Homo sapiens: one gene and its partner. The protein of the gene in region 1 interacts with the protein of each later gene in a pairwise test. Each region holds a gene or a part of one and is shown in the gene's direction. Other genes may lie near its edges. The genes, in order: ARFGAP3 and RAB6A.

What was found.
Region 2: the proteins of ARFGAP3 (region 1) and RAB6A interact in binary tests that used the Homo sapiens proteins (3 or more experiments, as listed by UniProt).

What each region holds. Positions count from the first base shown.
Region 1 is NC_000022.11:42,812,138-42,815,962, reverse strand, and holds part of ARFGAP3 (ADP-ribosylation factor GTPase-activating protein 3), read left to right. Parts: intron 1-3,825.
Region 2 is NC_000011.10:73,719,524-73,723,348, reverse strand, and holds part of RAB6A (ras-related protein Rab-6A), read left to right. Parts: intron 1-2,449; coding exon 2,450-2,503; intron 2,504-3,825. UniProt on the Homo sapiens protein: The small GTPases Rab are key regulators of intracellular membrane trafficking, from the formation of transport vesicles to their fusion with membranes.

The sequences.
Region 1 (3,825 bases):
TTTTGTATTTTTAATAGAGATGGAGTTTCGCCATGTTGGCCAGGCTGGTCTCAAACCCCTGACTTCAAGTGATCTGCTGGCCTCAGCCTCCCAAAGTGCTGAGATTACAGGCATGAGCCTCCACGCCCAGCCTAAATGTTTGATTACTATTGTTAGGTAGTTAAACTAACCACATTGAGGACCACCTTTGGGTTAGCAGTTCATGAAAACTGAAGGTGTTCCTGTCGGAAATGGGCGGTGCTTACTGGAAGGCTCCATCACTTATGTCTCTGAGGGCATTAGAGTTGTCTGGCAATTTATAGGTTTGAAGCGTTTTCATATGTATAAAAGATATATATGTGTGTGTGTATATATACACACCCACACACATGCACTTCATATATAGAACAGATATAAATATATTACCTAGGATCTAATTGTGAAATTGTATATTTTCCTATCAATGTTTATAGACAAGGAATTGTATAAAGAATACTATCCTTAAAAATGTCTCTAAGTATAGCTCTAAATTATTTCAAGTCCAGGGATTTTACCAAAAAAAAAAAAAAAAGTAGTAGTTTAGTGGTGTTCCATGGTGGTATTTTCAGAGACTTGGGTGGTTTTATATTTTTGCCTATCCTTTGCAGCCTGTATAATGCACCAAGTTTCACTTTACTCAGAAGTGATACCCAAATCATGCCTTTTAAAGGTATGTAAATAGATTTTACACAGAGTAAAATTAAATGTGTAATTTGATTTGGAAACTACATACGTGTCAGATCATTTCAGATGTGAATATTAAATGGTGGACTAAGTCTGGGTCAGAGGAAACTCTTGGCAGTACGGGTCTGTATTAGCCTGTGTGGCTTCTCACAACATCTTTGATTATTTCACTGCTTATTAGCAACTTCTGCAGATGATAGTGTAGGAAGGTAAAGAAAGTTTAGGCTGGGCATGGTGGCTCACACTTATAATCCCAGCACTTTGGGAAGCCAAGGCAGGAGGATCACTCGAGCCCAGGAATTCAGGACCAGACTGGGAAATATAGTGAGACCTCATCTTTACAAAAAATTTCAAAAATATTAGCCTAGCATGGTGGACATGCCTGTAGTCCCAGCTGCTTGGGAGGCTGAGGTGGAGGATCACTTGAGCCTGGGAGGCAGAGGTTACAGTGAGATTAGATTGCACCACTGCACTCCAGCCTGGGCAACAGAGCAAGACCCTCTCTCAAAAAAAAGAGAAAGTTTCAGTTAAATCAGTACTGTTGCTTGGTAGCCGGGTTGGTAAGAAAGCTCTAAGTGAGGTTGCCTAATGGGAACTTCAGAGACCCTCACTGGCTCCAGGTCACTGACAGGCCCCTGTGGGGCCTTTCTGCCTTGTAAAGGCTTCAGGGATCTTTCAGACTTCCCCTTCTTCAAAGGCTTAATCAAAAGAGTTAGACCCAGAAGCCACTGTTGCTATGAAACTGTTACTTATGGTTTGAAACCTGGGAGCAGATGGCATATTTATATAGACCACACCTCCTGGACTCTTTCCAGAGAGACCTTGGTGTATTGTTTATCACGACCTGCAGATTGTCTAATAGGAACATAAATGCCTTCTCTAGTCCTCCTTGGCATGGTGACCACCACTAGTAGAATGAGGATACTATTAGGTACTTTGGCAACTGAGGTAAAATAAACATGGACTCTGAAAGCAAATATATTAGTTCGATGAAGAGCTCTTATTGCTTTCAAATTATTCATTAGCCCATTAGAACTTGAACATTATGAATTATGAAAGAGTTCTGTTTCTGTTAAAAATAAGATAAAACCTGTCCTTGTTTTTTTTTATTATTGAGTTCCATTATTTCTAGGATATAAACAGTATAATTATATATTGAGTACAAGATAATGAAACTAGAACAATTTGCTCAGCCTTATAAAGCCAGCATGGCCTTAATTAGAATAGACAACTGTCTATAGCTCTAAATCAGAGCAAATGTGATATTAGGGTGCTCTTATCAAGGGATTTTAAGGAATGTTTTCAAGATTGGGTAAAGACAGAGTGGGAGGGGAAAAATAAAAGTAAAAAAGCATTGAGAGCTATACAATCAAAACATTAGAAAGCCAATAAAGGTTTGGAGATGAGGAAGGAAAGTCTGTGTGTTTCTGAGCAGGGACTAGTGGCCGTTAGTCGTCCCACTCACCCCATCCTTCCAAAGGTCAGCTGGAGTCCTGGCTGGTGGTCTGTCGGTCCTCTTAGTGAGTTGCCAGTCCTCCTACTGAGTTGCTCCTGCTTAGCATGAGCACAGAGAGCCTCTCGTGGATGACTGGAAGACAGAGAAGCCGCCAGCCAGCCCACGCATGGACTGCTGCCTCACAGGCTCATGCTGGTCAGGGGGACCCAAGCCGATGGCTGTCTCTCTTCTTTGACTTCTGAATAGTTCAGTCACTTAAAAGTAATCTGATTCCTCTACATTTCAGGATAAGTACATTGGCTTATAAGAATGAAGAATGTTATTTCCTTAGAGTGTTGCTAAATCTACAAAATTTAGTATCACAGAGTCATGAAGAACCTGGAAGTTCCACCCCACCCTCACCCTGCACCAGTCCAGTGCTGACCCCCCTCTTCCCACTCCAGGGCAGTCCAGCCTCTACTACACCCTTCCTTCTCCTCAAGGCAGCCATTTGGTCCCAGGTCAGCTCCGTGAGAAACTCTGCCTTTCATTAATGCAGCTTCTGAGGCTTCTGCATTCAAGTCAGCCTCCCTTCCATAAGTCAGTTCCCAAGCCTCATGAGGGCAGGAGCTGAATGTGTCTTCTTGCCCTTTGTCTTCCCCTAGCAGAGTGCCTGACTCCTCGTAGGTGCTTATTAAGTAGTTTTAAAATTCCTCACTGAATTGATCTTAGTTCTTTCATGGTGCCTTAAAATAAGTCCCTCAAACATGTGAATATCACCTTGCAGGCCAGCACACATCCCACATCTTTTGAACCTTCCTCCGATGTAACTTCCGGTTCCTTCAGTGTCCTGATCTCTCTTCTCTGAAAGGGGATCGGTCATCTCTCTTCCTCCAGGCAGAGCCTGGGTGCAGTACAGATCCACTCATCCGCCATAGGGAGAGCCTGGTCGGTTTCTAGCTGAAATCCAGATACACTTTGAACACCACGTTTTCCTTCCTAAGGAGTAGATGCTAGTGTCATGAGATTTGTTCTTAATGACCTTCTTGCCAGAGAAGGCAGAAGCCACATTTAGAAATTCTACTTTCTGTCTATTAAGGATGTAATATCATACCATCTGCTCCAACAGCAGTTTATCCTCTGTCCCTTTTTTGTTTCGTTTTGTTTTCTGCCAAGAAAGAGTAAATGTGTTCTTAGCATTTCCCCCACCCAGATCTTAGCTCACCGAGGTCCCTGGCCTCTTTGCTCTTATGGGTTCTTGCTTCCCTCTTATATTGGCCTTTGGTTACTGGCCCCTCTGACCTCCTATGATCTGCATCTTCTGTGCAACTCCTTATAGCACGGAGCTTGGTGCTCATCTTATTTCCAGTGTGCTTCCTGTCCTTACTCTCTGGAGAAAACCTGGATGATGTCTGTTAAGGCCTCTGCATTCTCTTCTGTCACCCTTCCTTTCCTAAGACCTCCCTGGGATCTGCCTCTCTCCTCTGAACTTCTTGGACTGCCTTAATGAGGTGTGTATATCTGGCCAGACTGCTTTTCCATCCTAAGCTATCGTGAATTCTGGCATGGCACAGTCCCTTTTTTTTTTTTTTTTTTTTTTTGAGACAGTATCCCACTCTGTCACCCAGGCTGGAGTGTAGTGGCATGATCATGGCTCACTGCAGTCTCGGCCTCCCAGGCTTAGGTGA
Region 2 (3,825 bases), on another chromosome or scaffold:
GTCTCTCAAAATAAATAAATAAAATAAAATAAAATAAGTAAAATAAATCTTTCTTTTTTTCCCCCCCAGTATTTGGAAGGAATAGAGTTCAATAAATATTCCTGATGAATGTGGACAGGTGTACATGATTTTTAAATGTGTTCCGTCCAATTTGGGTAGAGACTAACTGCATGTTTGTTCATCACTCTAGTACCTTACACAGTACTTGCAAGTACGTGCTTAATAAATATTTGATGAGCAAGCTGGGCACATTGGCTCATGCCTATAATCCTGGCACTTTGGGAGGCCGAGGTCGGGGGGAATCACTTGAGGCCAGGAGTTCGAGACCAGCCTGTCCAACATGACAAAACCCCATCTCTACTAAAAATACAAAAAGTAGCTGGGCTTGGTGGTGAATGCCTGTAATCCCAGCTACTTGAGAGGCTGAGGCACTAAAATTGCTTGAACCCAGGAGGCAGAAATTGCGGTGAGCCGAGATCACGCCACTGCACTCCAGCCTGGGCGACTGAGCGAGACTCTGTCTCTAAATAAATAAATAAATAAATAATCGATGAACGAATAAATGAGAACTAAATGGGGCAATGTGTATAAATCGGCACTTAGTAGATAATCAATTTATGTAATTTACTGTAGCTTTCATTCTTGAATATATGTAAAAACATGTAAAGACTTATCAACATTGCATTGATTTTTCATATAAAGATATTATCTTTAGGCAGGGTGTAGTGGCTCATGCCTATAGTCCCAGCGTGTTGGAAGGCCAAGTGGGGAAGATCTCTTGAACCTAGGGGTTCCAGACTAGCCTGGACAACATGGCAAAACCCTGTCTCTATAAAAAAATACAGAAATTAGTGGGGCATGGTGGCATGCACCTGTAGTCCCAGCTACTCGAGAGGATTGCTTGAGCCAGGAGGTTGAGGCTGCACTGAGACAAAATCACACCCCTATATACCAGCTTGGGCAAGAGTGTGAGACTGTCTCAAAAAAAAAAAAAAAAAAAAAAAATATATATATATATATATATATATATATATATATATATACACACACACATATATATTTGAATTTTATTTACGGAAGCATCAGAAAAGAATAAAATACTTAGGAACAAATTTAACAAACAGCATAAGACTATACAAAACACTGCTGGGAGAAATTAAAGGAGACACATGTATTAGTTTGTTCTCATGCTGCTAATAAAGAGATAACCCAAGACTGGGTAATTTATAAAGGAAAGAGGTTTAATAGACTCAAGTTCCACATGGCTGGGGAGGCCTCAGGAAACTTACAATCATGGCAGAAGGGGAAGCAAACATGTCCTTCTTCACATGGCAGCAACAAGGAGAAGCACAGAGCAAAGAGAGGGGAAATCCTTTTATAAAACCATCAGATCTCGTGAGAACTCAACTATGACACACACAAAATTCTATTTTTCTGCTAACAGAAATAAAATCCCCAACTGATGGACCACTTTTCTGATCTAGTTTTTGATTGTTTTTTAGGAACTTAAAATTCTTAGTGACTCATATTTTAAAATGCACAGACTCAGTTTCTGTTTTAAGGAATATGGCACAAAGATATTTAGGGAAAAAGTATGTATGTACACGCACATATATACATAGTATATGTGCACACAAACATTAATGAGGTGGTAAAACTTCTAAAATAGAGTCCATATCAACATCCTCTTTCTGGAGTCTGTCTTTCTTCCATTCTTTTTATTTATCTCCCCTAATTAATACTGGACTGTTTTTTAACTTGTATACTTTTTTTCCTTTCTTTTTTGTAGTCTGCCTTCTTTCTATTCTCTTATTATTTCACCATTTTCTCTTGATAGGGAAAACAGCAGCCAGGCAATAGAACTTTACATTTGTTTTCACCACAGAAGGAAGCTATCATTGTGTGGTACAGAGGAAAACTTGTTTTCCTTACCTAATGACTTTTATTTTATATTGGAAAAATCATGTCTCTTATGGAAAGTTATGATGTTTGTGAGTCTCTGGCTGTCTATGGCATTAGGACAGTTGACAATATATCAACAGTATTTTATAAAACTGCTCTTGGGGCAGATACTTACCATTCTGAGTGGAGAACAATCAGATACTCAAACTAAAGTTCAAATACAAATATTTAAACCAAAGTTGCCATTGTCTTGTTATTTGTAAAATGAGAAAAGTAGGGATGAGAATAAGCTACCTGGCAGGAATGTATAAAGATTAGAGATGATCATGTAAAAGGCTTAAAACAATCTCTGATATGAAGCAAGTGCTGAATACATGAAAATCATTATCACTGGAAATTTTGTTTGTCCTTAATTGTCCTTAATTGACTATGTTGTATTGATTTGTTTATTCATTATTTCTTCCACAATCATGAATCCCATTTGAATCCTAAACTGCTGGCCACCATTAAACTTATTATTTGTTAACTTCTTTGTTTTGTTTTACAGGCAACAATTGGCATTGACTTTTTATCAAAAACTATGTACTTGGAGGATCGAACAGTGAGTAATATTTTCAGTGTGCAATTTTCTGCAACATTCCAGGTTAGAAAACTGCAATCAAAGTTATCAATGATTGTCACCATAAGAAGTACTTAGCAAAGTTACCAAAGATAGTTTACAGTTGTTGAGAAAAACTCTTATTACCGAGTGAGTAGTACTTGGCAGTCATCTTGATTTGGAAAAATGAAAACAAAGAGCTTTACAGAGAATTAAAGGAGAATTTTTATGAAGAAATTAAACCTGCTAAAGACCTTCTAAATGCCACCCTTGAGGCATTCAAAAAGATTTCAATTTGTGAACTTCAAGATTTTTTTTGTCAGGATAGGATGCGTATCAAAGTGACTGACAAAAAAGAAGTTATGTGGGCAGGGTGCGGTGGCTCACACCTGTAATCCCAGCACTTTGGGAGGCTGAGGCAGGTGGATCATCTGAGGTCAGGAGTTTGAGACCAGCTTGGCCAACATGATGAAACCCCATCTCTATTAAAAATACAAAAAATTAGCCAGGCGTGGTGGCGGGCGCCTATAATCCCAGCTACTTGGGAGGCTGAGGCAGGAGAATCGCTTGAATCCAGGATGCAGAGGTTGCAGTGAGCTGAGATTGCGCCATTGCACTCTAGCCTGGGCAACAAGAGCGAAACTCCGTTGCAAAAAAAAAAAAAAAAAGTAATGTGTATTTATTTGTTGGATTTTTGTCTTTCATCCTTTGGAATGTTTTCTTTAAATACAGTGTAAAATCTGTATTCTAGCCCACTACCCCTTGAAGAGATACTTGTCACCTAAACAGTGAATATCTTAAATGCAGTACTTTGAGACCTGCACCCAAAAACATTATTTAATTTCCAGTGTTATTTCTTAGGTGTTTTTTTTTTCCTGAATATTCTCTTTTATGTTTTGATATATAGCATGTCATTTCTTAAAATTTGAAAGCGGCCAGGTGTGGTGGCTCACGCCTGTAATCCCAGCACTTTGGGAGGCCAGGATGGACAGATCACCTGAGGTCAGGAGTTGAAGACCAGCCTGGCCAACATGGCGAAACCCCATCTTTTCTAAAAATACAAAAATTAGCTGGGCGTGGTGGCGGGCGCCTGTAATCCCAGCTACTCGGGAGGCTGAGGCAGGAGAATCGTTTGAACCCGGGAGGCAGAGGTTGCAGTGAGCCGAGATCACACCACTGCACTTCAGCCTGAGCGACAAGAATGAGAGTCTGTCTAAAAAAAAAAAAAAAAATTTGAAAGCTTGGAAACGACTTTATCATGATGCAAGAACTTGATACTTGTTTTCAGGCTTTTCTTCCTGTAATATAGATATGGATAGTACGTA